7 separate regions of the Homo sapiens genome follow, and all the other regions are linked to region 2. Evidence: fine-mapped expression QTL. A gene starts in region 2. Each other region holds a variant in brackets. All regions are shown on one strand. Distances are between the middles of the regions.

Evidence for each region. PIP is the estimated chance that this variant, and not a neighbour inherited with it, causes the effect.
Region 1: its variant is fine-mapped to the expression of DRC8 in whole blood (INTERVAL, PIP above 0.99).
Region 3: its variant is fine-mapped to the expression of DRC8 in fibroblasts (GTEx, PIP above 0.99).
Region 4: its variant is fine-mapped to the expression of DRC8 in whole blood (TOPMed, PIP above 0.99).
Region 5: its variant is fine-mapped to the expression of DRC8 in prefrontal cortex (GTEx, PIP 0.98).
Region 6: its variant is fine-mapped to the expression of DRC8 in kidney cortex (GTEx, PIP above 0.99).
Region 7: its variant is fine-mapped to the expression of DRC8 in cerebral cortex (GTEx, PIP 0.97).

What each region holds. Positions count from the first base shown.
Region 1 is chr1:245,083,987-245,088,053 of GRCh38, forward strand. It overlaps DRC8 (dynein regulatory complex subunit 8), which reads left to right. Exons shown (of 8, transcript NM_032328.4): 8 at 3,259-3,851. The coding sequence ends at 3,374. Among named protein-coding and RNA genes, the nearest start is that of KIF26B, 69 kb to the right of the region's middle. RefSeq lists an enhancer at 1,125-2,324. The variant A/G (reference allele first, on the strand shown) is at 2,461.
Region 2 is chr1:244,967,182-244,971,248 of GRCh38, forward strand. DRC8 (dynein regulatory complex subunit 8) reads left to right here and starts at 2,501. Exons shown (of 8, transcript NM_032328.4): 1 at 2,501-2,862; 2 at 3,148-3,262. The coding sequence starts at 3,238. LOC124900416 reads right to left here and starts at 3,389. Exons shown (of 4, transcript XM_054328428.1): 1 at 3,145-3,389; 2 at 3,074-3,143; 3 at 1-3,071. The coding sequence starts at 3,356. The coding sequence ends at 2,805. It overlaps EFCAB2-AS1 (EFCAB2 antisense RNA 1), which reads right to left and starts at 3,688. Exons shown (of 2, transcript NR_111907.1): 1 at 3,631-3,688; 2 at 1-2,798. RefSeq lists enhancers at 851-1,355, 3,794-4,067 and silencers at 2,564-2,703, 2,974-3,153, 3,164-3,523, 3,534-3,623.
Region 3 is chr1:245,090,559-245,094,625 of GRCh38, forward strand. It overlaps a transcript of DRC8 not described here. Among named protein-coding and RNA genes, the nearest start is that of KIF26B, 62 kb to the right of the region's middle. The variant A/G (reference allele first, on the strand shown) is at 1,720.
Region 4 is chr1:245,122,228-245,126,294 of GRCh38, forward strand. It overlaps a transcript of DRC8 not described here. Among named protein-coding and RNA genes, the nearest start is that of KIF26B, 31 kb to the right of the region's middle. The variant A/G (reference allele first, on the strand shown) is at 2,063.
Region 5 is chr1:245,680,959-245,685,025 of GRCh38, forward strand. It overlaps KIF26B (kinesin family member 26B), which reads left to right. Exons shown (of 15, transcript NM_018012.4): 11 at 3,275-3,437. It overlaps LOC105373265 (a long non-coding RNA gene), which reads right to left. Exons shown (of 6, transcript XR_007066988.1): 4 at 1,787-3,493. Among named protein-coding and RNA genes, the nearest start is that of SMYD3-AS1, 430 kb to the right of the region's middle. The variant A/G (reference allele first, on the strand shown) is at 2,171.
Region 6 is chr1:245,519,576-245,523,642 of GRCh38, forward strand. The region is part of intron 4 of KIF26B (kinesin family member 26B); the gene reads left to right. Among named protein-coding and RNA genes, the nearest start is that of KIF26B-AS1, 290 kb to the left of the region's middle. The variant A/G (reference allele first, on the strand shown) is at 1,657.
Region 7 is chr1:245,557,459-245,561,525 of GRCh38, forward strand. All of the region lies in intron 5 of KIF26B (kinesin family member 26B), which reads left to right. Among named protein-coding and RNA genes, the nearest start is that of KIF26B-AS1, 320 kb to the left of the region's middle. The variant C/T (reference allele first, on the strand shown) is at 2,102.

The sequences.
Region 1 (4,067 bases), 120 kb after region 2:
AACATGAACTATCGATCACTGTAAATGAAGGCCTCTTCCTAGATTGAAGATTTGAATAAAGAATATAAAAATTCCGCCCCCCCCCCGGCGCCCCGGCTTTTTTTTTTTTGAGACGGATCCGGTCTTGCTCTGTCACCCAGGCTGGAGTGCAGTGGCGCGATCTTAGCTCACTGCAACCTCCGCCTCCTGGGTTCAAGTGATTCTCCTGCCTCAGCCTCCCGAGTAGCTGGGATTACAGGCACAGGCCACTGCGCCCAGCTAATTTTTTGTATTTTTAGTAGAGATGGGTTTCACCATGTTGGCCAGGCTGGTCTCGAACTTCTGACCTCAGGTGATCCACCCATCTTGGCTTCCCACAGTGCTGGTAAAAATTCCCTTTTAAAGAGCTTTTCTGTCAGTGAAGTTACAGATAATGTAGCCTCAATTGAATACTGAGGTCATTTTTAACACTAAAAATGTCCTTTTTTAATGTTAATTGAACCATATATATTTGTTTTGAACATGGCCCATCATACATATATGCATACACACACATAAAACCTGCACACTTATATATATATGCCAACATATTTCCTTTAGGAATTCTCTCTGCTAGGCTGATGTGTAAATTTGTTTACACTGAAGGTCAGTAGCCTGATGGACAGTCTCCTGAAACCATCCTCATATTGGTCCCCTTGCCTTCTCCCATACAAAGCTAGAGCTCTCTGGTTCACAGACTGGGTCCTGAATGACTCAGAGTTGCTAATCACTTGAGGCAGAATGAAAAGCGCAAGTGATTTTGAGTAGGGAAGACTAAGACTGCATCTACACGCACAACTGGTTTGACCATTCCAGCTTCATCCACCTTAAGGCGGAATACAGAGAGTGAGGGTCAGAATGGCAAGGCCGTCACAGCTGCCACCCAAGAACTCTGACGCCATTGTTAAAATTACCTTCGGGATTAATTCTGATGGGGATGTTACGACTTTCAAAGCATCAGCTTCTTCATCCTGAGGATTAGTCTAAAGAAAGTAAATCCTAGGTTATATATCAGGCAACATGAATTTAGTCAAAATGGCCCAAACAGTTAGATTTTCCTACTGTTGTGTGCCTACTATATGTTTAATATTTAGTAAGTGTAGTAAGGTATAATGATACTTAAATCTACTTCCTCTCTCAAGGATATTACAATCTTATTTGGGAAATAAAACTAACATAAAATAATTCACAATACAAGACAATAGAAAGCTAAATATCAGAAGATCAACTAGGGCTGGCCCAGCCTGGAAAACTTGGTTTGGGAAGACTTAAAGAGAAAATAGGTTTTTTGAGATGGTAGAATGTATATGGTTAAATTGTTGAGGGCAAAGGTAAACTCTTGTGCATTATAATTCTGTCACACATGGTAGATATCAACAAATGTTTGTTGAATGAATGAGTGAATGAGTAGATGATGAAGACCAGGTGAAGGGGCTAATGAGAGGGAGACATTATCGATGTGTAAAACAGTCTGAACAAAAATGGGGAGGTAGGAATGAACATGCTATTTCAGAGAGAAAATAAGCCTAGCTGGCCCAGAGGGTAATGTTGGCAAACAGCAGGAAATTAACTTCAGTAGACTTACTGGGACTAAATTGTGGAGTCCCAGGCTCAGGAGTTTGGAATTCATCCTGTGGGCGATGGAGAAGTATTACAGGCTTTTGAGCAGATGACTCACATGGTGTGTGAGTGATTGTGAGAAGGTTTTTCTGGTGCTGGTCGGTTTGTTAGATGCATAAGAAAGAGGTTGGACTAGGGAGGCCACTTAGAAGGTTATTTCAGCATTTTGAGGGCACCCAAATAAGGGCCTGACCTGGCAGTGGGAATGGCAATGGGAAGAAGGGATTGGTACAATAGGACTGTCTGTGGCAGGATCCATGGGTCATGATGAGTAACAGAGTGTAGGCGACAAAGCTGAGAGCTGAATCCAAAGTACCACCAAGGCTTTGCCCTCGATGGCGAGTATGATGGTAATGAGACTGACTCAAACAGAAAGGTCAGAACAGACCGCAGTGTATACAGAGACAGTGCGACCACGTGGTTTACTTGGAGGTGCTGTGTGATAATTTCGAAAATGGTATGTTTACAGAGAGTTCATGGTACTTAAAGATCAACTATTGAGTATCTCAGCGGACTAAGCATAGGACAGGTATGGTCAAATAAGAATACATATGTTTTCAATTATTCACTCAGCAAGTATTATTACAAACCTTCCACATATATGAACCAATATGTTTGGAAGTAATATGTAAGATGTAAATCTATACAAATCTAAGTTACGATTTAATATAACAGACCCATCAGCTAAGTGTAATAGCAGTTGACTAGTTTGGTAAAATAGGAGCTTAAGAATTGCTGCTTTGAGAGTCTCAGAATTCTACAAATTGTTTTTAAGTACATTTATGCTATATAACAATATGGATTCAAGCTACTTGCACATTC[A/G]TCCTAATATCCACAAAGTATCAAACACACTAGTTTGAGAATATGCATTCCTACAGCCCTGGATGTCATATGATAAAATAAATCACACTGAATCAAGTTCCTACAAGATAGAAGTCCCTAAGTGTCCAGGAATGTGTATTGCATCAGACAGTGTTTAGCAGCCGGGAAGATCTCAGAACAATTTTTTAAACAAACACTTGCATGTTGCTGCTTCTATGCCAGGTACTGTTCTAAGTCCCATTCAAATCATAACACGTTTCATTCTCATGACAACCCTATGTGACAGGTGGTGTCGTTATCACCCCCATTCTAGAGACAGGTAAGCTAAGGTGGGGAGCTGTGAAGTGACTTGCTCAAGATCTCAGAGCTCGTGAGAGGCAGCCAGCATGTGGATCCAAACTTGTGCTTTAACCACTCAGTTATCTTCCTTCCATCTTTCATCAAATACTGGGGCTTCAAGTTAATCCTCTGGTAATTTCAAAAGTTTTAATCTAAATAAATAACCTTGTTCATGATGTCTGTATGTCTTCCTACTGTTTTGCCTGAAATGACGTGTTCTAGAGGTTGCTTGATCTATGACATCTGCAGGCTAAAAGAAGTCCAGAATCTACCAGGGTGTACAATAGCCTTGTCTTTGAACCTCTGGACTGTCGTGATGTCCTGGCTCTACAGCTCCAGGGAGCGTAACTAGTGGCACTGTGGGAGCTTGTGGGGCTCCATGGCTATTAAGCTGGCTAGTGGAAAGAGAAAAAAATCAGATGATCCTAAATGATAAATTTTCCTTTTTGTCTCTCTGAGGTGAGCCTTTTTCTCAAGAGGAAATGGAAGAAATGTTGTCTGCTGCAATTGATCCAGAATCAAATTCAATTAATTACAAGGACTATATAACAATGATGGTGATAGATGAAAATTAAATGTTCTAAAGATAATTTCTGATTGAAAGAACAATTTTAGAAATTGCTTGTTCTTGTTAATTTCACATCTTATCTTAGGATTCCTATATGTGATATTTAATACCTTGTGACATAACTATTTTAAGACACTTTGTTTTTAAAGATGATCGTAACACTTTAAACCAAATTTAGTATGTCTAGCCTTACAGAATGATAAATTACTATTTATTTAAAAACTATTCTTAAAACATTTTAACATTAGAATGGATTGTTGTTTATTTTCTACAATAAAACTCAGGTCACCTTCGAATTAATTAAGCTGACAAAATGAAAATGACTTAATTACCCAAGGTTTGGCATGTAAAGATCTTAAGAGGGGGCAGAACGAACCACTCGAAAACGAGTAGCAGTGTAATGAAGGCTTCTTTTTTAAACAATAACAAATGCTTCATCAATCTGAGTGTGGAAGGTGATTTATCAAAATAAATATTACTAATTTATTTTTTTATGAGTGCCAATTACAAATATCATTTGGGATAATAATAACTTAGTGTAAACATTTATATTTGCTGATCCAGCATGTCACCATTTATGGAGTAGCTAAAGGAGTTGAGATCATTGGAACTAGAGAAAAGAAGGTTGAGTGGAAGTTGATAGTGTAAGGTAGTGGCAATTCTCCCTTTGTCTTTAGAATTCTCACCCACTCCGCATATC
Region 2 (4,067 bases):
AGAGTTAAAAGTGTAATATAATCATCGGTCATGTTTCTACAACCAAAGAGAGTTGAAAGGAGTCAAATATCAGCATAATGCAGATAATGTACTCACTGGCATTGTGGGCCTTTATTATTTGGATAATCATTTTCACCTTGTGGAGACTTTTCCAGAATTATATACTTTTATGCCTAATCAGCAAATTAGGCAGTTGAAAAGTATGTATGAAGCAGCTAATATGTGCCCCAATTAGGCTAGGTAGTGTGGGTATATAAAAAGGGTTTATAAAGGGGGAGGCTCCTATTCAAACCTTAGTGGGGTCAGGAGATGCGGAAGTTAATTAACATATATTAAATATTTTTTTACTCACCCACACCTAGAGAAACAGTACTGTTTTAAATGTGCTGTAGGAGTTCAGAGAAATACTGATTAATGTGGTTTGGAATAAATTAAATAATAAAAAGCTTTGCTGAATACAGTTAGTTTAAAAAATATAAAAATATAGGGGGATTTGCAGAGAAATCTGTTCAACTCTTAAAATAATTTTTAATTTATATATGTTTATATAAGAATTCCATTTTATTAACATGAAATACTAGTACCTTTTTTTGGGGATGGAGTCTTGCTCTGTCATCTGGGCTGGAGTGCAGTGGCGGATCTCGGCTCACTGCAACCTCTGCCTCCTGGGTTCAAGCGATTCTTCTGTCTCAGCCTCCCGAGTAGCTGGGATTACAGGCGTGAGCCACCACATTCGGCTAATTTTTCTATTTTTAGTAGAGATGGGGTTTTACCATGTTGGCCAGGTGGGTCTTTAACTCATGACCTGAAGTGATCCACCCGCTTCAGCCTCCCAAAGTGCTGAGATTATGCGTGAGCCACCGCGCCTGGCCCAGTACTTTTACTGATGAAAAATGTAATGTAAAAGGAAGGTCTGTCTTACATACAATAAGTGCTGAATCTGGGTCTTTTTTAAAAAAAGTCATTGAGAAGACTTACTCCTTTCTTAAGTTTTAAGACATTTATTATTGCAAACAGAAAAATTGTACTAGATACCGGGGATATATAAACGAATAATGCCGTTTCTGTCTTCAAGATCTTACTGTTTGGTAGGTGGAAATAAAGTGAACGAACGAAGGCACTGCAAATCAATGTGGGAGGCTCTATAAGCATGGGGCCACAGAGGAAAAGGCTGAGAGGGAAAGCTTCAATGACTAGGTGACTTCAAAAAGGTCATCCTGGCCAGGCACAGTGGCTCACACCTGTAATCCCAGAACTTTGGGAGGGCCAGGCAGGCGGCAGATCGCTTGAGCTCAGGAGTTTGAGAGCAGCCTGGGCAACATGGGGAAACTCTGTCTCTACAAAAAATACAAAAACTAGCCAGACATGGTGGCGCGCGCCGCTCCTCCCAGCTACTTGGGAGGTTGCGGTGGGAGGGTCACTTGAGACCGGGAGGCGGAAGTTGCAGTGAGCAGAGATCACACCACTGCACTCCATCCTGGACGACAGAGCGAGACCCTGTCTCGAAAAACAAAAGACAAAAACAAAAACAAAGGTCATCCTGCAGGACAACCAGGAGGGCACAAATGTGTGTCTGTGGGAAGCTGAAATGTTGGCGGGGGAAAAAAGCAGGGAAAGGCATTCCAGAAAAAGGAAACTGTAAACAGCACACGAAAAAGCATAGTGAATGAATAGGAAGCCTGAGACCAAACTTAGGGTTTCCTACACTTATTTCAAAGCCCTTCATTATCTATATGGAAAGGGGGAGTCTTTAAACACAAATATTTAGATCATATTGACTGAGATTTAGATATAAATGAATGCTAATAATTACTTTTCGTTATTTTGGGGTGTTAAACATTTACTGTACAAGATTGTATTCGTTTTAAGTATCTTCTAACATGAGCCATTTTGTAATGATTCAGTTGTTTATATTCAATTTCAAGTAGAATGCTGATCACAGCGCCAAATGGGTATCTTCTACAGAAAAAGTTATTTTAATAAAGAAAAATATAGTCAGTTTTAGGATTTCCTGAGAGATTATAGAAACAATAAAAGCATTAAAACTGTTAAGTCATTAAATACGAGTACCTTGTATTTTGAAGGCTCTTAAAATTTAGTTTATAAATTGCTTTTACATAACATATGCACTGAAATACCACTTAAGATTAGTTTTGAAAATAGGTGTTCGTTTCAACCACATCATTAGGTATTTTATTCAAAGCTCTTTATAAAAAGAGCTTTACTATGTTCCAGTATAGTAAACTTATCCAGAAAATAAGACAAAAATTTAACTTCATGCTATAGCTGCAAAGTTTTCGGAAAGCGGGATTTAAAACTTCCATTGTAACTTTAACTAGCGGTCATGTCAAATTTCACAACTAAGAACATTTTAACGCATGTAATACTGAGCACAACATGGGCACGTTTTTGTTGCTATGAGAACCTTCTATTTTGTATTAGACATTGCAGCCTTGACGACGCAATGTTTGTGCTATTTTGCGCATGTTTTCCTGCAGCTATTCCTCTCCTCTAGCAATAGTCGAATGGCTCTGGTTTCCTCTTGCGCCCGGCCCAGTTTTTCCGTTTTAGCTTCGGTTGTCATAGGCTGTGCTGTCGCTTTCTCTGGGAAAGGACGGTGAAGACTGGACGGGAGAAACCGGGAGGGCAGGCGCGGCCGTTCTGCAGCAGCCGGGCCGCTTCCCGGCGGGAGGCGGGCTGCGAATGGGAAGCGGGAGGAGGAGGCCGGGCCGCGGGCTGGTTCTATCACCCCCTTGGGAGCCCAGCTCTTCACCTAGCTCTCCGGCGCTTTTCAAAATCTGCAGTTAACAACAAAAATCGAGCAACGCCACGTCGCACAAACAGGACAGGAGGGGGCGAGGGGTGTGTGCGCGCGCGTGCTGTCCCCAAATGGATGAGAAATAAGGGAAAGGAGGGGTTGGGGACCGTGTGATGAAGCAACATGCTAGGCCCGGGACAAGTCCGGCTCCGGCCTCGGGTCTGGAGGGACAAGGCCGGGGGCCGGGTGGCAGACGGGGCCTCTGGTCTTCCCCCAGCGCGAGGGTCGTGGCGCGAAACGGGGACAGGGCGCGCGCTCGGAGCCTCCTCCCCGCCCCGCCCCGCCCAAGGGTCTTCCTCCCCCGGGATTCAGAGCGGCCCCTCCTCCAGGCCAGGCTCGCCGCGGGGCGCTGAGCAGGCCGGGACACCGCGGCCGAGGTTATCGTTAGGCATCTCCCAGGCGACCGGCTCCGCAGCAAGATGGCGGACGAGAAGGACAGGGAAGGTAAGGTAGGGGAGCCGGGGAGCCGCTGCCCTCGCCGCCCGCCGCGACCCCGGGCTGCACGGGGAAGCGCCGGGTGGGGTGGGCCCTCGTCCATCTGGAGTTCCCACCCGCAGGGAAAGGGCGGCCTGAGGAGGGGGCCACCCGGCAGCAGCAGTCGCCCTGCCCCCGTCCCCGTAGCCCGCCCGGCCCGCCGCTCCGCCCCGCCCCGCCCCGCCTCTCTCCCCCGCCCCGCCCCGCCTCTCTCCCCTCTTCCCTCCCTCTTCTCTCTCCCCTCCTCCCGCCTTCTTCTTTCTCCTCCCGCCCTCTTCACCCTCTTCCCCTCCTCCCGCCCCGTCCTCCTTCCCCCTCCCTCGGAGGCCGGGCCTTGCATCCTGCGCGGGCTGCGCCGGAGGCGCCGGCAGGGGGTGCTGATAATGGCGTCGTTGTTCACGGTCGCGGGGAAGCCGCCGCCGCCTCCACACTCTCGCCTGGGGTCTCGGTGCCGCAGGCGCCACGCCCGTAGCTGTCCAGGCTGTGGGCCCCGGGGGGTGGCCTGGGTGAGGAGGAGTTCTGGCCGCCTGAATCTGACGGGATCCTCTGTTTGCGCCGAAACCCCGCGCTGGCGCAGCCTGATGGCGTTCGCGGCCACCATTTTGCCTCCTTAATGAGGACGCAGGAGGACGGTCTGGAGGTCACAGCCGCTGCCTCCGAGCTTCCCGGTCCTCCGAAATGCCTGCCCCGCCGCCGGCTAGCGCCGCGCAATTGGCCTAGTGTCTTGTCTTAAAAAAAAAAAAAGACACACACCCAAACAGCAATTTTAATAACG
Region 3 (4,067 bases), 120 kb after region 2:
AGAAAGGTGACAATCAAGAAGTTACACAGCAGTAAGTGGCTGTATCAGCTTTTTCTAGGTTATATTGTGATAACAAAACTCCCACGTGTCAGAGGTTTGCAAGAATGAAGCTTATTTCTGTTTACGTTTTTTTTTTTTGGTCAGCTGGGGTCATCCTGGACTCTGGCCTACGTGTCTTTGTCCTACTCATGGCCTAGAGAGGTAGGATGACCGTCTGTCCTGCTTTGCCCGTGGTAGTTCCAGACTATACCTGTCCCAGTGTAATTATTAATAGGTCTCCTTTGTACTCTTAGAAATGTTCCAGTTTAGATGATTAATATGTGGTCATCCCATTCAAAAAATAGTGAGTAAAAACGGTGGTGAGGAATCGTCACTTCTGGAAGGCTTCCTGACAGATAATTCCAGCAGTGGTAAGAATGGAAGGCATTTCTTCCTTCTCTAGTTTCCCAAGATCATTTTTTTCCCCAGGATAACCTGAGATTTTCCCAAGGTAAAATCCAAATAGAGACCTGATGTGCCACTGGCTCGGCCGTGCATGCTAGAATCACCAGCCAGAGATGAGGATGAACCGCGTGCCTTCAGGACAGGGCGGAGACGGAGGAGGAAAGGAGTGTGGTGATCCTCGGAACATCAGCAGACAGGCTGTTGATGATAGGAACACATTGCAGCGGGGAAGGAGGATGGCTGAGATATGAAATACCCTTCAAGGTGGACGCATACCCAGGGGCATGTCATTCGGTGGCAGGGGCCAGCACGGACATGCAGCACTGAGGCGTGTGCTAGCGCCCAGTGCGTCGACCCAGGCACGGACTTGTTTGGAGCATACAGGACAGCTCTGCGTTAAGACCTGTAAGCCATTAAAGAAGTACAGTCTGGTGAATGAACCCTAATCTCTTGATGATCAAGTGATGACATCATATTCTGTCTCCGAGGAGACACCCTCTTGCACAGAAGGCAGTAGAGGAAGCTTGCGTCGAGATTGCCTACCTCCCCAGCCCCACCTTCGAGGGTTCTTTCAAAAGTTCGGACTGATGTTCAACTTCACATCTTGTCTCAAGGCAATCCTCTCTGTTTAGTCTCATAGAGTTGGCTTTGTGGAATGTAATTCATTTTTATCTTTAGCACAAATTTGTCTGTTTCTTTTAAGGCCACCAGAAAGCACAACATAGACTCCCCACAGAAATCTCATTTTATCTCCTAAGTTGCAGAATAAACGTACCTTGTTTGCAAAGGGAACATTTTCCTTTACACTCAAATCACTTCAATGTGTATTTTGCCTCTTCAGCTCACTGACCTCGCCCGCAGCATCTGATGTAAGTCACCATATGCCATTTCCCGACTAGGAGAGTGCTTGGCCTCTTGTGCAGGAAGTTTGCTTACCCTCATGACTCCTGGCTTCCGCAGAGCCTGCCATACCCCACAGCTTGGCCGGGCCCTGTGGAAAGCCATCTCTATTCTCACACTGCTGGGGAAGGTGCATGACTCAGGACCCGACACACAGGCCTGAGAGTCTGGCGATCTTGTGCTCTGATCCCAGCTTCATGTGTGACTCACTCTGGATCAGGCGCTTCACTTCCTGTGCACCTCTGTCTGTAAAATAGAGAGCCCAGCTCTAGTCCTTCTCCCTCCTGAGAAGCAATGCAGAGATTTAGTCCCCTTTGCAGTCACCCAGTGTCTAAGTACCAAATGCCCAAGAGACAAAAAAGAGTCCAAGATAGC[A/G]GGCTAGTTGGGATTACGACTGTTCGTTAAGGGCAGGAGTATTTTCTGTGGGATGGAATGTGTTTAGATCTCTCTCTCCTAGTTTCCTGTCTTCCTTCCTTTCGCTTTTCTAAATCCTTCCATGTAAGAAAGTACCCTGTTTATACAGACAGTTCCTTGAAGATCAGTGTCACTACCTTACCCTCCTGGGCTGCTTAAATAAACGGAGAGCCTCATGGGTGCCAGGCATGGTGGCTGCCTCCTAGGCCTGCCTATTTCTGAAAGCATGGTTGCCAATCATCTGCTTCAGGAGCATCTGGAAGGAGGGTGTTAGAAATGGGAGGTGTGCCCCATTCCAGACCCCTGAAACAGAATCTCTGGAGGTAGGGTCCAGGAAACTTATATTTTTAATATTCTCAGGGGATCCTTATGCACGCTTGTGTGTAAAAAGCACTACCTGGGGCTCTGATATTGAATGAAAGTGTGGGATTTGGAGTTAGGCTCTGCTGCTTACTGATTACGTAATTGGCCCAGACATTTAATATTGCTGAGCTTCCCCGGAGGTCGAGGCTACAGTGAGCCATGATTGTACCACTGCACTCAGCCTGGGTGACAGAGAGAGACCTTGTCTCAAAAAAATAAAAAAATATTGCTGAGCTTCTGCATCTTAATTTGTAAAGTGGAAAAAACACTTTTCGGGGCTGGTGTGAAAATTAAATGAAATAATAAAAGTGAAAATGTTTAAAAAGCTGTAAGCTATGACACAAATAATTATTTACAGAAAGCCAGCTAGGCAGAGAGGGAGAGAGAAAAAGAGAGAGGGAGGGGCAGGGATGGAGATCTGCTGCCTGGGTGTGGACAGGGAGGTGGGGAAGTAGGTAAATAATAGAAAACTAATTGGAGAGAACGTGCGCATACCTGGGCTGCTGGTGGGGAGATAGCCGAGGTTTGCTGTCATGGTGCTATTAATTATAAGGCGTTAAGTTTATTTCTAGAATGTGAAAACAGGAGGCCTTAAGAGGTTTCTTTTTTTCTTCTTTTAAAAATGTGCTATCAGTCATGGTACTTTTAGAGCAGCAGGAATTATTTACCTCATCTAGTGGAGAAAACACTCTTAATCATTTGAAGAAACTGTTATTTTTCTTAAAAAAGAAAAATCAGGCCAAGCACAGTGGCTCATGCCTGTAATCCCAGCACTTTGGGAGGCTGAGGTGAGCGGTTCACTTAAGGTCAGGAGTATGAGACCAGCCCAGGCAACATGGTGAAACCCCGTCTCCACAAAAGTACAAAAATTAGCCAGGCGTGGTGGTGCACTTATAATCCCAGCTACTCGGGAGGCTGAGGCAGGAGAATTGCTTGAACCCGGGAGATAGAGGTTGCAGTGAGCCGAGATGGTGCCACTGCACTCCAGCCTGGGCGACAGAGCAAGACTCCATCTCACAAAAAAAAAAAAAAAGAAAGAAAAAGAAAAGAAAAGAAAAATCACAAGTTGAAAAATTGAGGCCAAACCTAGTTCTGTGGAGAAGGAGATAAGATAAAATAGCACACTATGAAAATCGGGCCATGGTTTTATATGTGTGGCAGGTCAAAATGCCAAATATATCTTGCTGGCTCCCCCCACACGCCCCGGCATTAAGTTTTCAGCTATTAGTAAGAAATCTCAAAAGAGGCTTCTAAGCATTTATCACCAAACTTAGGAAATGTACTGAAGTATAGGTGAGTATTGCATGACTTTAAATACAGCTTTTAAACATGTCAAGATGTGTTTCCATGCTCTGAATGCCTAGTTTTAAACTGTCTTGCTGGCTGGTAACCATTCCTGGTTACTAACTCAAGGTATGATCCGCACTTAGGCAAAGCTCACTGTTAATGAGAATAGAGGTAAGTCTATTTTCCAACTAGTCTTGATAATGTTTAAGTTTTCTTAGTTCTTCTTTATCAAATCCGATTAGCCTGTCTTTGTTCTTACACAACATGATGAAGAGCTCATCCTGGTGGAATTGTCGGCCCCACTGTTCTCGGAAAACCCCCCTGTGCTTAGGTGTTGGGATATCTTCAATTCGAGGTTACTTTTTAGGAACTTTTTAAGCCTCTTATCAGTTTTTGAGGACTGGTGTCATTAAAACCAAATAACATCTGCAAATCCTTCACTCAGTTGGCCACCTGTACGGTTAGTGATTGCACGGAAATAAGCAAGGTGGAATGAGTACACGAGCGAAGGCTCCCCGAGCTTCCTTCAGGACAGCCGCCTGCCTTCCTGATACGTGCATTCCTGGTACATGCATTTCTGCTGTATGGACCCCAGGAAGATGTCAATGAGATTTAACTCTAACACAGAACATAAATATAAATTAAAACAAATCCTGGTT
Region 4 (4,067 bases), 160 kb after region 2:
CTGTATCTTGCTTTGTCTAGCTGTTCTCTTCTCTCCATATTCATCCAAACATTTGCTTAGAAGTACCCAGAAGCATGGCGTTGAATGTGGTACACCTTGAACGAAGGGTGAAGAAACGAGGCAGAGTGACTTAGTAGCAAGTGACAGCACACAGTTTAAATTTTAATATTAGCCCATTTACAAACAACAGCTTATATAATAGTCATTCACATACCTCAACACTCACCATCCCCTCCCCACTTTTTTTCTGGAGACAGGGTTTCACTGTCACCCCAGCTGGAATGCAGGTGGCATGATCACAGCTCACTGTAGCATCGACCTCCTGGACTCAAGGGGTCCTCGCGCCTCAGCCTCCTGAGTAGCTGGGACCACAGGTGCATGCCACCACGCCCAGCTAATGTTTTTTTTTATTTTTTGTAGAGACAGGGTCTGGCTATGTTGCTTAGGCTGGTCTCAAACTCCTGGGTTCAAGCGATCCTGCCACCTCAGCCTCCCAAAGTGTTAGGATTACAGATGTGAGCCACTGTGCCCAGCCAACATTCACCCCATTCAAGTGTGCAATTCAATGGATTCTAGTATCTTCACAGTGCTGTGCAACTATCACTCCTATCTACTTACAAAGCATTTCCATCATCTTAAAAAGAATCCCCATGTCCAATAGCAGTTCCCCTTCCCCCACCGTCATCCTCGGGCAACCGCTAATCTTCCTGTGTGTCTGTGGATTTGCCTCTTCAGGGCATTTCACATAAACACAATCATACAATATGTGGCCTTCTGTGTCTGGCTTCTTTCATTTAGTGTAAGGCTTTTGAGGTTCATCCATGTTGTAATGTATATCCTTAGTTCATTCTTTTTTGTTAAGCTCACAAATAAAAAGCCTCACTTTTTATTTGAGGCAAGGAGACTGGCTACAGGGATTACAGTTCCAGCAGTCAAAACGCAACTCCAAGTGGCACTATTTGGACCGTAGGTTTTGCTTCATTTTGGCTGGAAAAGGGTATTCAGGATGTACTTCTCCCAGCCGGACAAGAAAAAGGGCAAAGAAAACTGGAAGAGACGTCTCGTCTACACAAACTGCTCTTTGGACACAGCATCAACCTGACCACACCCGTGCTGGCCAGTCTGCAGGTTGCTGACCCGCCGTTAAGGGACACAGGCCATACTACACTTGCTAGAAAAACTGAGGCAGGAAAAAGAGGTGCAAGGCACTGGGGGAAGAGCAGGTACCTATAGCTTTAAAGCTCAGTGTTGAAGGGGTAATCCTTGCAGGAGGCACAGCTCACCAAGACACAGACCCTCCCGTTCCTGTTGTAGCTGACTACAGTGGTCACATCAGGCTGCTCAGTTGAAAGTCGAAGTCCTCCAAGTTTTCAGCAGTGCGTTCCAGCATCACCACCGAAATGATGATAGGAATTACCACCAAATTCCTATGCATGGGAAACCAGATCAGAACCTGGGCTGCGTTTTTATTTGTTTATTTTTTTTACTGTGCTTGGCTGTGATTGCTTTGGTGCTGGGATCCCCCAGACCTGTCACGAGAGCTGAGGGGACTACAGGCAGTCACCACCTTGCCTTTGGATTGGCAGCCCTGGATTAACTTCTCCTGAGGTGGGTGCAGGTGGCACTCACTGTGGTTAACCACTGTTTTTAAGCCAGGTTTCTTTTTTTCTGTCTGTCATATATATATATATATATTTAGAGACAGGGTCTCACTCTATCACTCAGGCCTGGAGTGTAGTGGCATGATCATAACTCACTGCAGCCTCGAGTTCCTGGGCTCAAGTGATCCTCCCGCCTTGGCCTCCCAAAGTGCTGGGATTACAGGCTGAGACACCACACCTGGTCTTAAGCCAGGTTTCTTTACCATCTCTTGGAGATGGCTGCAGTTGGAGATTCCAAAAGCTTTCAGAGCCCTTCATCCACCAGCTCCTCCATGTGGCCACCCATGTGACATGAAGTTGGTGTCACTAGGTACCACGTTGTCTGTCCCATCCAACAGGAAAAATAGCCTGTTGGCCAGTGAATAAGGTAGGAATCCAGGTGGTCCCCTGAGGGTCTTCTG[A/G]CAGGCTCCTTTATCAGGCTCTTCTCATGGTATGAGCACCGCAGCTTGCTGACAGTGGCAACGTTCTCAAGCTTCACAGACTCCGTCACTTGGCCTGGAGGGGAATTCTAGGTGTCCAGCCCCAGGACAGGCATTTTGGCACCATGATTGAGCACGATATGGTGAGCCATCCTCACAGGATTAAGAAGAATTCTGGACAGAAATATAGTTGTAAGTAAGCATCAGTCAGCCTGCACTTTGACCCACTTCCTTGTAACCAACAGTGACGTAGCACTAGGTAACATTTGCATCCCCGTTGTTCCTATAGATACAATTTCTGACCTTAGAATCACAAGGCTTTTGTTTAAAATAGATGGGATCTCTGACATTAGAATCATAAGATTTTTGTTTAAGACTTGCTTAAGATGTTTTTCAGATCCTGAATTCCAGCAAAACAGCCGACACCAACCAGTTTGAAGACCCCCACAGAGGAATGTGATCAGCATGAAAATACAGCTTCGTCTCCCTCTCCCATGACTCCACCCTGCACACTTCGACCAATCAACCATCTCCACACTCCAGTCTCCACTCCCAAACCCTTAAAAACCCCAGCCCCAAACTCCTCAGGGAGATGGATTTGACGTTTCCTCCCATTTCCTCCTTCGGTGGCCCTACGATGAAACCTCTTTCTCTGCTACAACCCTATGCCTCGGCGTATTCACTTTCTGGTCCCATCCAGCGATGGACCCATCGTGGTTACCGTGGCTGGCCAAGCCTGCTGTGCTTCACAGACCCCACTCAGGATCACACCACTTCGTTCCACTGTTTGGAGATGCCATGTTTGCTTATCCCTTCATCAGCTGATGAGCATTTGTGCTGTTTTCACTTTTTGGCTATTACGAAAATGTTGCTACGAGCATCCATGATATTCGCCCATTTAAAAAAGTGTTTTTCACCATTACTGCTGTGGGAAATTTCTCCCTGGCTCTGTCCTTTCTTTGTAGCCCAGCCTTCCCCCAGGTTTTGGCTCTCCCTCTCTGGCTCAATGTCAGCTCCTTGTCTCACCTCCTAGAGCAATTCCACTCTCCCACCTCCTGCTGCGGCATTTCCAAAGCCTCTGCTTAGCAAGGGACCACCCATTCTGCACCTCTCCCCTTAGGGCTGCAAGCACCTGCACAAACTTGGTGGTTATCCTATGCCTCAACTCAATCAAATTCTCTCAGTTTTCCATCAGCAATCTTTTTAAGCCAAAGGGAAGGCAAGGACTTGATCTTCACATCACATGAATCATGACACCTGCCTTAGAAGGCAGAAGCAACTGTAGTTGGAATAGCAATTGTTTTTCAACATATGGGATGATATCAAGGCTCTTTCCTCCCCATATGTCCTGCCCTGTTAGTGGCTGGGGCTGAGGGTTTTCCCAGGAAGCCAGATTGTCCTCACAAGTTCCTCAGGACCCTAGGGCTTCCACAGATAGTAGGACTGTTATCAGAAAGAAGTCTCGATCCAGACGCCGAGAGAGGGTTCTTGGATATCGCCCAAGAAAGAATTCAGGGGGAGTCCATAGAGTGAAGTGAAAGCAAGTTTGTTAAGAAAACAAAGGAGTAAAGAATGGCTACTCCATAGGCAGAGCAGCTCCGAGGGCTGCTGGTTGCCCATTTTTTTTTTTTTTTCTTTGAGATGGAGTCTGGCTCTGTCGCCCAGGCTGGAGTGCGGTGGCACAATCTCGGCTCACTGCAAGCTCCGCCTCCCGGGTTCACGCCATTCTCCTGCCTCAGCCTCCCGAGTAGCTGGGACTACAGGCGCCCGCCACCATGCCCGGCTAATTTTTTGTATTTTTAGTAGAGATGAGGTTTCACATGTTAGCCAGGATGGTCTCGATCTCCTGACCTCGTGATCCACCCGCCTCGGCCTCCCAAAGTGCTGGGATGACAGGCGTGACTCGTGATCCACCCGCCTCGGCCTCCCAAAGTGCTGGGATTACAGGCGTGAGTCACCACGCCGGGCCGGTTGCCCATTTTTATGA
Region 5 (4,067 bases), 710 kb after region 2:
TAAACGGCCCCCAAGAATGGTGCTGATGTCCTATTTAGGGTCCCTAAGCACAGGAAGGCTGTGATGTGCCTTATGGAGAAAATCCATGTGTTAGACACACTTCTTTCAGGTAGGAGCTACAGTGCTCATGGGGGTCTAGTGTTAATGAATCAAGAATACACACACCCAGAAAAAGGAAGAGGAAGCGCACAGGGCAGCCAGCTTGATGTCACCACGTTACATCCTTTTATCCGGTCTTTGGTAAGTTTTCTTTTCTTTTTTTTTTTTTTGAGACAGAGTCTCGCTCTGTCGCCCAGGCTGAAGTGCAGTGGCGCGATCACGGCTCACTGCAAGCTCCACCCCCCGGGTTCACGCCATTCTCCTGCCTCAGCCTCCTGAGTAGCTGGGAATACAGGTGCCCGCCACCACGCCCAGCTAATTTTTTGTATTTTTGGTAGAGATGGGGTTTCACCGTGTTAGCCAGGATGTTCTTGATCTCCTGACCTCATGATCCACCCACCTCGGCCTCCCAAAGTGCTGGGATTACAGGCATGAGCCACCGCGCCCGGCCGGTCTTTGGTATGTTTTCTTGGGGACTTACACAGGGTCACGTGGAGATACAGGGGGATGCGCCTTCGGCCCATCTGTATGTGGGGCCACTCTGGAAAGTGCTAAGGTAACAGCTATAGTACATGAGGAAGCCATGGAAGAGATGAAAAGTGGCTGAATGTGTGGATTCATCAGATGATGAGAACATTTAATGTAATAGATAGCATTGGTGTGAGGCTAGACACCAAAGAAATGTACAATCATGTTACCCAAGGGAAGGAAAGTATTAAACCCTTCTTGGCTAGTGTTTTATTTTAAAGAAATACCAAATATAATTCATTATTTTGAAGAAACGTATTAAATAAAGCATCTTATTAACAAGGTTACGTATTGACCAGTTGAAGAAACTTTTGTCATCAGAGGTTCACAGAAACCTAAACCATACGTTAGGTTGGTGCAAAAGTAATTGAAATGGGCCAGATGCAGTGGCTCACACCTGTAATCCCAGCACTTTGGGAGGCCGAGGCGGGCGGATCGCCTGAGGTCAGGAGTTTGAGACTAGACTGGCCAACATGGGTGAAACCCCGTCTCTACTAAAAATACAAAAAATTAGCTGGGTGTGGTGGCGCGTGCCTGTAGTCCCAGCTACTCCGGAGGCTGAGGCGGGAGAATCCCCTGAACCTGGGAGGCGGAGATTGCAGTGAGCCGAGATCGTGCCGTTGCACTCCAGCCTGGGCAACAGAGCAAGAGTCTGTCTTAGGAAAAAAAGAAAGAAAAAAAAAGTCATCGAAATGACAGAAACCGTAATTACTTTTGCACCAAACTGTATTTCCCCTAAGAACAATGGCCCAGTATTTACAAATTCAGTGTTCACAAATATTTTATAGAACACAGCTACCATGAATAACAAGAGCTGACTGTATATGATCACAACCTAACTGAGCAGAACTCACCCTCCACTACTCATGTAAGACCTGACTGTATATGATCACAACCTAACTGAGCAGAACTCACCCTCCACTACTCATGTAAGACCTGACTGTATATGATCACAACCTAACTGAGCAGAACTCACCCTCCACTACTCATGTAAGACCTGACTGTATATGATCACAACCTAACTGAGCAGAACTCACCCTCCACTACTCATGTAAGACCTGACTGTATATGATCACAACCTAACTGAGCAGAACTCACCCTCCACTACTCATGTAAGACCTGACTGTATATGATCACAACCTAACTGAGCAGAACTCACCCTCCACTGCGCATATTGAAGACAGAGCCCAAGACGCATCCAGGTGCAACGTCTCTGCTAAGAATGTGTGCCAGGAATGGGGCCTGGCTTCCTCGTCGAGTGCGGCTGTCCGTGGGTTTCTGCTAGACAGATAACGTTCTGAAGGAGTTAAACTTTCACAGCTCCTCCTCCTCCTCCTCCTCCTCTATATCCCTTACCTCGCCACGTTCATCACTGGTCATTTTGCTGGAAGGGAAGCCCTGGTATATTCTTACATTGCTCTGGAAGTGAGCTTTAGCCCAGCGTCGCCAAACTTACACCTTAATTGATCCCAGATGAGAAGGAAAAGCTATTGCTCTTACCCCACAGTCTTCCCTCCCTGAGGCCAGAAGCAGGTCACGTGTA[A/G]AATGGTCTGCTCTCTGCTGACAGTGGCCTGAGTCTCCCATAGTGTCTGCTGAGCTGGATAGTCCCTCTCCAGGGAGCTTTGCAGGGGATGGGTGATGAGACATGGACATGGGGACGAATTCCTCTCATCTGGAATCGCAGACACAGCATGGAGATATGAGCACGCGGCATGGGAAATAGGCTTCCTCAGCCCTTCAGGATCAGGGAACGTGCCAGAGATGCAATGACATTTGGCAGCAGTTGAGAGTATGAGTGCTGTTGATGAAATAAACAGAGGCCTTTAAAAGCAAGGCAGGAAAAATGCTGGGACGAGTACAGGAACAGAAAACCAGCCATTTCTCCAGGTCTATTCAAAGACGTAGCAACACTCCCTGCAAACCCCAGGGCCTCATTATCACCACTCAGGGCAGTGGCCCCGCACAGCACCTGCACAGTTGCCAGAGGAGGCCTCTCTATAGGAAGTGCTGCTTTCTGTTGTGGATAGAGTGACTGGCTGGGCCTCTCTCTGTGTTTCTCCCCTAGTCTTCAGGAATATGAATGCCTTTTCCTTCAGTGCTACTAGGTGCAAATATGCGAGTTAAGGGACAATGCCAATAAAGTAGCCGCAGTTTCCTGGCTAAAGGAACTGTGCAGGTATTAAAAACCCACCGATCTTTAATCCAGGTTCGTGGCAGGGGGACTCCTTTTTGTTGCAAGATTGTCTGTGTGTGGAAACCCTGGAGAAAGGCCACACGTGCAGTCAGCAAGCCGAGTCACCAGGCACAGAGCCCTTTCTCCTGATCCCCTCCTCTTGTTTCTATTCCCAGGCCTCATTATGTATAATGTCACAGACACACACGCCCAGGAACATCCCATCACAGCCAGGACAGAAGCGCCAAGGGAGGTGCTTTGCACAGATTCCATCTTGGAGTTAGAAGCACTTGCTCGGTGCTTGCCAACTACAAATAGCCCCATGCTGGAAAATGATGCTAATTAGTATGCCATTAAAAAGGGTGGGGGGACCACCACCCACAACAAAATGGCCGTGTGCAGGCCTGAAGCCCTGCCCTGAGGGCCACAGGGAAGCATGGCCGCTAATGCAGCCTAATTCACTTTGTTTGGCAGAGAGAGCAAGCTCGCCATGTTGCTGCGGGAGTCTCTGGGGAACATGAACTGCCGTACCACCATGATCGCGCACATCTCGGCCGCGGTCGGGAGCTACGCGGAGACCCTGTCCACCATCCAGATTGCATCGAGAGTCTTGAGGATGAAGAAAAAGAAGACGAAGGTAAGGAGCTCGCGGGGTGGGGGGGTGGTGGATGAGGGAGCCTTTGGAGCCGTGCCCTGGAACAGAGTCAGAAAAAGCCAAATCAACGTTGCCAATCCCCCAGCATCAGGAGATGTGACTTGGAGCTGACAACACGTGGCTCAGGGTCCACTTTGGGGCAGGGAAACCTTGGGGCTGATACAAAGTCATGTCACCTCCCCACACCTGGTGCTGGCCCTGGTCACCCAGCCTGGACCCCTGACCGGAAGCACTTGGTCCGCTTTAGAGAGTACAAATGGATTGCTACCTCAAGAGGAAAAACGTTGGAGGGATGGAAAATATTGTTTTTCTCATGCATGGCCTCGGTCCTGCGTAGGTGGAGACTGTGTCCTTCGAAGGCTTGGCACCAAAGAGGTTCTCAACTCCCTGCTCTCAGGGCCCCTCCCCTGCTGCATGTCCAGGAGTCACTCCCTGGCTGCTGCTTTTGTCCTGGCAATTCAGTGGTTTCTGGATGATACTGAGTCTGCTGGACATCGCTGGGCTCATTTTCTCAGGCAGAGGCCAAGCCAGGATGGTGGCAGGGTGGCAAGTAGTTGAGAAAACCATCATGATCGTGGCCACTCAGTGGCAGGGGCAGCTGCTGAGGTGGGG
Region 6 (4,067 bases), 550 kb after region 2:
AATTAAGTATAGTCATGTGTCACTGAATGATGGGGATGTGTTCTGAGAAATGAATCATTAGGTGATTTTGTTGTTGTTTGAACATCATGGAGTGTACTTCCACAAATCTAGATGGTATAGCCTCCTACACACCTAGGCTAGAGGGTAGGACTGTTGCTGTACTGAATAGTGTAGCCATTTGTAACACAATGGTAAGTATTTGTGTCCCTAAACATATCTAAACACAGAAAAGGTACAGTAAAAATAAGATTATCTTATGGGACCACCAGTATATATGTGGTTCGTCCTTGACTGAAACGTTATACGGTGCATGACTGTATTTGGTTTAGCCCATGTTTTTATTTTGAAGAAATGCAGAACAAGTTTAAAATTGAATTGTTGAATTGTTGTCATTAGTTGATAGCCTAATAAGAACATATTGTTCAAGTACAAGAATATCATTGATTTAATTACCCTGAAAATATAATTTTGAAAAATATCTACATTTTTTAAAAATTAAATTTTCGTAGTGTAAACTAAAATTAAATACTCAACTAACTGAGAGAGAGAGAGAGAGAGAGAGAGAGAGAGAGCCCTTCCCCAGCTAGTCTGGCAGCAAGTGATTTCTAAAGGCCAGAAATAGGAAAAAAAAAATAATCGAATCAAATTGACTTTTGGAATTGTCCTTATGAAGCACAAGTCTACAACCTTTAACTCATAGAGAACACAGTGAGCATATCTGCTTTGACTGGCAACTTCAAAAAACCCCTCTCCCAGAGGCTTGGGAAAACACATGTTGGACACAGACTAATGATAATGTGGAACAATTATTACAATGAACACAATAATTGTATTTGTTTTATGAACATGATAGCCTGAAGAAACCCATACCAAGAAATATTTTACGTGTTGTCATCATTAAGAAGTCAGCAAACCTTAAAGACAAACACAATCTATTCATCCATCCATCCATCCATCCATCCATCCACCCATTCATCCATCCATCCACCCATTCATCCATCCATCCATCCATCCATCCATCCATCCACCCACCCACCCATCCATCCATCCATCCATCCATCCATCCATCCATCCATCCATCCATCCATTCTGTAAGTGTTTATTGAGTATCCACTGCATAGCATGCACCATTCCTGGCAGTTAAGAAAATAAAAGGCCTCACTCTCATGGAACTTACATCAGAAAGGGCAATATTAATGATCAGCCCTGACCACATGCCTTTCCCTATTAATGATCAGCCCGGACCACATGCCTTTCCCTTAGGGAACATTGTAGGATGAATGTTCCCTGTGGTCTGAATGTTTGTGTCTCCCTCTAAATTCATAAGCTGAAATCCTAACCCATAAGATGATGTCATTGTAACATTGTAGGGTGTATTTTAGTTGGTGTGGATATGGAGGCAGAAAAGCAAGGATACTGGTGAACCTGGGGAATGCTTAAGAGGTTGGACTGTGCTGTACCCGTTAAAAAGCAATAAACAGGCTGGGCGTGGTGGCTCACGCCTGTAATCCCAGCATTTTGGGAGGCCGAGGCGGGCGGATCACGAGGTCAGGAGATCAAGACCATCCTGGCTAACACGGTGAAACCCCGTCTTTACTAAAAATACAAAAAATTAGCCAGGTGTGGTGGCGAGCACCTGTAGTCCCAGCTACTCCG[A/G]AGGCTGAGGCAGGAGAATGGCGTGAACCCGGGAGGCGGAGCTTGCAGTGAGCCGAGATCGCACCACTGCACTCCATCCAGCCTGAGTGACAGAGCGAGACTCCGTCTTAAAAAAAAAAAAAAAGCAATAAACAGAATCTCATGCTTCTATACAATAAAAATAACCATCTTCCCTATAGATGATGAAGAGTCTGTTAATATAATCTGACAGGCTTGTTTTGGAAAATATTTAGATACTTATACATCCAGATATATTCCAAACCATAGCCTTGTAAAACCTCTGAGCTAGCGCAATCCTTGAGTATAAGTCTACCTCCACCTAGACCAATGTTTCCAAACCATTCTGTGGCTGGGAAGACTGGAAGGACCCCCAGGCTGACCCTGTTGGGAAGACATGCAACAAGGCTTACTTCTTCAGTGGTGTCAGTGATTTTGAGCCAGTTCTGACCATCCACTCATCCGTCTGTATTTGTGTAGTGCTCACTATAGACAAGGCAATTTTGGGGAATGCAGTTGTAGGAAAGATAGACATGGCTCCTGACCTTATGAAATGTTCAGTCTTGTGAGGAAGACACAAATAATTACAGCCCATTGTAAGAAGCGGTAAGGTGCTTTTGTACCCTTTTGGTCCATTTTTCTTTTTTTTTGTTTTGAGATGGAGTCTTGCTCTGTCACCCAGGCTGGATGGAGTGCAGTGGTGCGATCTCGGCTCACTGCAAGCTCTGCCTCCCGTGTTCACGCCATTCTCCTGCCTCAGCCTCCCAAGTAGCTGGGACTACAGGCACCCGCCACCATGCCCGGCTAATTTTTTGTATTTTTAGTAGAGACGGGGTTTCACCGTGTTAGCCAGGATGGTCTCGATCTCCTGACCTCATGATCTGCCCGCCTTGGCCTCCCAAAGTGCTGGGATTACAGGTGTGAGCCACCGCGCCCGGCCTGGTCCATTTTTCATCTTGACCATGGACCACGCTGGTAGATGCCTGGGGGCATGAGGGACATAGCAATCAGGCTCTGTCAGCCTTTGTGACCAGCACAACTTATTTCCAGTGCATTAAAGAAAATGATACTGCCTATGCCCAATTTAGATGTGGGCCAGCTGTGTTAGTTAGCTTAACACAGCATTTTGTTTTGCATATGTATTGATTTTGCGCACATGCTCTCTAAGTGCCTCAGAACACTGCCTACAGCATCCTGGTGAGGTTGACAATCAGTTGTCCTGTCCCTGTTCATCTGGCATGGGGACACACTGTCAGAGGAGGAACTACCAAGTAAGTAATTGCCTCCAGCACACAAAAACTGCAGACACATGGTTGACATAAGAATCTAGTTTCAGCTGGTGGTTTTCAGGGCAAAGCAACTGCACTAACAGGAGATTTCCCTGACAGCTGATTTAAGGCTGTGGAAGACCCCAGTTTATCAGCTCAAATTGAGAATGTCCTTTTTTGACTAGAAACGAGACCCTCCCAGCCAACTGCACAACCAAAACTTATATTCAGGATGTCCAGGACCTGAAACTGACATGGGAGTCAATATTCTACAGCCAGTTGTGGTGTCGACAGGGTCTGGGGGAAATCTTCAGAGCTGACTTGTGATGTAGCAGGGCTTACAGCAAAGGCATCCCTTTCACCTTGCTCTTTAGGATTCATATTCTAAGAAGCTGCTAAGAAAAAATGTCTAAACGGAGACACTTAGGATATAGTTTTCATATTAATGTTTTATTTTAACAATAATGGGAGCAAACACCTACCAGGTGTTTACTCTGCGTCAGGAACTGTTCTGATAATCTTATTTGAACTTTGCAACAATTCCATGAGGCTAGCTACTCTTACCATCCTGTTTTACAGCTGGGGAAACTGTGGCACAGGAAAGTTAAGGAACTTGACCATGGCCACAGAGCTCTGAGTGTCAGAAAGAAGATTTGAAACCACACAGTTGGCTTCGCATCCTGTACGCTTGACTATTTCTCTTTTCTGCCTCTCTTGGGAGAACTCTGAAATACTAAAGTACTATATTACTAAATAAATGCTTGCTAAAGCATTTATTTGGTCCCATATTCTCAATTTACACAATTCTTTTCTCCAATCACATTTCATTTTAGACTTTATGAGCCCTGTTGAAGTCATCAGCTTAAAAGTGCCCTTGAGCAATTCTCTACTCTAGATTGAGTTAAACAGAGTATCTGTAGATAATCTAGAATCACAGACAATACCTGTCTTAGTTCCTTTGGGTCGTTATAACAAAAATACCATAGTCTAAATTTATAAACAACGGAAGTTTATTTTGTACAGTTCTAGAGGCCGAGAAGTTAAAGATCAAGAGACCATCAGGTTCAGTGTCTGGTAAGGGCCCACTCTGGTTCACAGATGGTGCCTTCTCGCTGTGTCTTCACATGGCAGAAGGGGCAAACAAGC
Region 7 (4,067 bases), 590 kb after region 2:
ATCTGCAAAACAGGAAAACGAATCATACTTCCTCAGAGGGTAATTGTGAGGCTCCAATAACTGTGCTGGAGAAAGTGGGGTATGAGGCCCGGTTTGGGGCTGTGGGAGCACCTCTTCCTTCTGTTGGTCCTAGGAGCTCAGCGCTTGGTGGGATGTTCCAGACCAGGAGAGGCTGGGACTAAAATTCCAGAGTGATCTATGGGTGCAGAAGCTTCAGACGCCTGTTCAAGAGATGGGTATCAGGTGAGGTGAGTCCATATTTAGGTCTCCAGCTAGGATTTAAACCTATAAGGGGAAGAAGCACAGGTGAGCTACAGTAATTTTGGCTAAAGGTCCAAACTGAGGCCAATCTCAGGGCATGTCCCTCTAACTAGAGGTAAGGCATTTAGTCAACAGCCCTCCAAGCTCAAATAGGCAGAGGGTAGAACTGAGGGGGAATAGCAGCTGTTACTAGGAGGCTGGTCACTGGCAACCTTGGGTTTCAGGAGCGAGAAATCCATCCTGGATACTGCGAACGCCCTTGATTCTTAGAAAAGTAGGGTCCTGGCATCAAAGCTGGAGCAGTATGGAACGGATGACTGCTTAGACACAGGGCCAGTGGGTGATCAACTACAGCCTCGTAGATTTCTCTTTGGAGGACTGGAGTGACTCCCAGGCTCAGTAGGGGACTCTGTAGGGGACTGAGCTTGGAGAAGCCCACGGCCACCCTGCCTCCATTCCAAACAAGATTATTCACTCCACTCCTGTTTAGCTGGTCACATGGCTCCCCCATTCCTTGCTCTCCATTGCCCTTAGTCCAAAGTCCAAATTCCCCAGCCCAAGGCTGCAGGGGGCTGGCTCCCTGGCCTCTAGTTCCTGCTTCTCTCGCCTGCCCCCTTGACTCCAGTGAGTAGTTTTTGGTGCTGCAAAGAGGACACACTTTCTCTCACCTTCGGGCCTTTGACCTGCCCGGGCAGGGCCCTCCCCATCTTCCTCCTTTGCTCTGAATTCATCCTTCTTCTTCAAGCTTTAATTTGGATGTTATCCCTTCACCCCGCTTCCCCAAGGAAGTTCCCTCCTGCCCCTGAGGCCTCTTGCCATGCTGGGCTCTAAGTGGGCATTTATTTCTCTGTGCAGAGTTTGTCCTTCTTTGAACCAGGTCCCTCCTGGACAAGGAAGGTGCTAGATACATGTTTGTCTAGCCACAGGGATCAGAGCTCAGAAGGTTGCGGGGACAGGGCATCCTGCCTGCCCTCTCTGAATGTTCACTTTGAGTTACTTCAGTTACTCTTTACCTGGACAACATAACGTCGGGGAAAACTCATTTATTTGCAAAAGGCAAAATACATGACACTGTTTCACTCAGAAGCCCCTCAGACCCAGCATCTCGCCAACCTTTGGGCTTAAGAAGTGGTGAAAAGATGGGGAGAGAGTGACTGAATGCATTTTTCTGTCTAGGCAATTTAGTATTACAGGAGATGCTCTCAAATCCTTGACCGGAGTGAAGGCAGAGTTCTTGTCAGTTATGTAAGAAAAACAGCTCATTGTTATATGATGCACACTGAACACCATCGTGTGTTTTCTCAGTCTTTGTGTGTGCGGACACGTGGCATTTAAATTAAAATTTGGCCAGGCACAGTAGCTCATGTCTGTAATCCCAGCACTTTAGGAGGCCAAGGCAGAAGGATCGCTTGAGCCCAAAGTTGAGACCAGCCTGGGCAACGTAGGGAGACCCCATCTCTACAGAAATTTAAAAAGTAGCCAGCCATGGTGGCACACACCTGTAATCCTAGCTAAGGCTGAGACAGGAGAATCACTTGAGCCCGGGAAGTCTAAGCTCCGGTGAGCCTGTGATTGTACCACTGCACTCCAGCTTCGGCCACAGAGTGAGACCCTGTCTCAAAAATAGAATATTAATTAATTAAAATTTAAGGAATTCTGTTTTTACTACGGTGAGTAACAAGGTTTTTTTTTTGGTTTTTGGGTTTTTGTCGAGACGGAGTCTTGCTCTGTCGCCCACGTTGGTGTGCAGTGGTGCGATCTCAGCTCACTGCAACCCCCACCTCCCGGGTTCAAGCGATTCTCCTGCCTCAGCCTTCCAAGTAGCTGGGAGACAGGCGCA[C/T]GCCCCCACACCTGCCTAATTTTTTGTATATTTTATTAGAGGCAGGGTTTCACCATGTTGGTCAGGCTGGTCTTGAATTCCTGAGCTCATGATCCACCCACCTTGGCCTTCCAAAGTGCTGGGACTACAGGCGTGAGCCACCGTGCCCAGCCTATTTTTGTTTTTGTAGAGATGGGGGGTCTTACTATGTTGCCCAGGCTGGTTTTGAACTCCTGGACTCAAGTGATCCTCCCACCTCAGCCTCCCAAAATGCTGGGATTACAGGCGTGAGCCACCACACCCAGCCTAACAAGGTTTTTTGTTTTGCTCCTGTAGGTCTATTTTTTTTTTTTTTCCAATCAGTATTTTCAATGTTTTGGCTCCAGACAGATTTCAGTGGTGCATCACATGTTACCGACGTGCCTCCCGTGCCTCCCTGTCTGTTCATCTGCTGTCGTCTCTGCCAGGGATGCTCGTCTCTCATTCGTTTTTTTGGCGTGGAAACACGCTGCTCAGTCCTCAGGCCCAGCTCCCGTGTCACCTGCCACCTGCAGGCCTTCCTCTTGTCCCTTCTCCAGGCACTGTGCCTGTGTCCCCTACTCCAGACCGTGAGTTGTGGATGAAAGGGGCTGTATCTTACTTGCCCCTTTTTGCATTTATTCATGTGGATACATAGATGCTCATTCGCTTCAATTCATTGAACATCTGCTACTGGCCAGGGACTTTTTCCCTTTTGGAAGGAGACCCAGATACCCTCCAGACATAGGTCCGGCCTCTCAGGAGTTTTCATTCTCCTGAGAGAGGAGAGAGACTTGTTGAGCTATGCGTGGAGTGCTGCCTGACAGCTTGCTATTTTCTTTCTTTCCTGTGAGATAAAAATGTACCTTATGGTATTACTTTATTTTAATTCTGCCATGACATTTGTGGCGGTTGTTTTAAGATTCAGAGATTACTGGGTGTTGATCTCCTTATGATACTCTCGGTTCCTAATTATGTTAGAAAAAAAAGCAAAGCGGGAACTTGGCTTTTGTGTTGCCTTCACAGAGTGTGGAGGTTGAAAACATCTCAGCGCACTTCACGGAGGTTCTCAGAGACCCCATAAGTTTCTGGAAAAGTGGGAAACGCAAACCTGTCAACCTGTCAGTCTCTCCCCTCTCACGGAAGCCTGACATGTAAATCTCAAGTTGTTAAACCTGCTGTCAAATGAGCTGCCTCCACTGAAGACTCCCCTCCGCTCCTCGCACTCTCATCACTGCCCCTCACTCTCTGTCCCCACAGCACAGGGACAGCCTCCGCAGACTCCCGTGTGTGTGCTCTGGAGAGAAAAGATTCTGGATTTGGGCGGTCTCACCTCCAAAATTGCAGCCCCTAAGGGGAGCCGTGCTAAGGTGTGATACAGGCCATGCCCCTTCTAGCCCCATGGGACACCTGACTGATAGCAGCCTGTGCAGATGTGAGGAACAGAAGGTGGCCCCAGACCCCTTAGGAGAAACCAAAGTGCCTCAGAGACAGGACAAGTGCTACCCCGGAGGCCAGTCACCAGGTGACCTGGGAGCTGGGAACCTTTTCAGCCTATGGGTGGCTGTTTATCACGAGGGGCATTAGACAGACAGGAGGCAGTGCTGAAATTCAACAGCACAAAGCAATTTCCAGCTTCATCTTGGCTTATTAATAATGAAACAGCAATAGCGCAGGCACAAATCAACAGTAAGTAGGTGGGTGGGTGAGACAAGTTGGACATTTGGGGAACAGCCTGGGCAGCTACCGATACAGAGGGAAGCCATTTGGTGTGTGTACCTCCCCTCTTCCCTGGGATAGGAGCAAACCTGAAATGAGAACGGCAGTCATCTGCACACAAAAACTAGGTTAGGAAACTGTTTTCTAAGGGGCCAGGTTGGGTCACTCTTTGTGACAAGAACCGTGTGAACCACTTCTTACCTGTAATTCTGACTCAGCATTGATATTTGAAAATTCTTCCCTAGGGCTG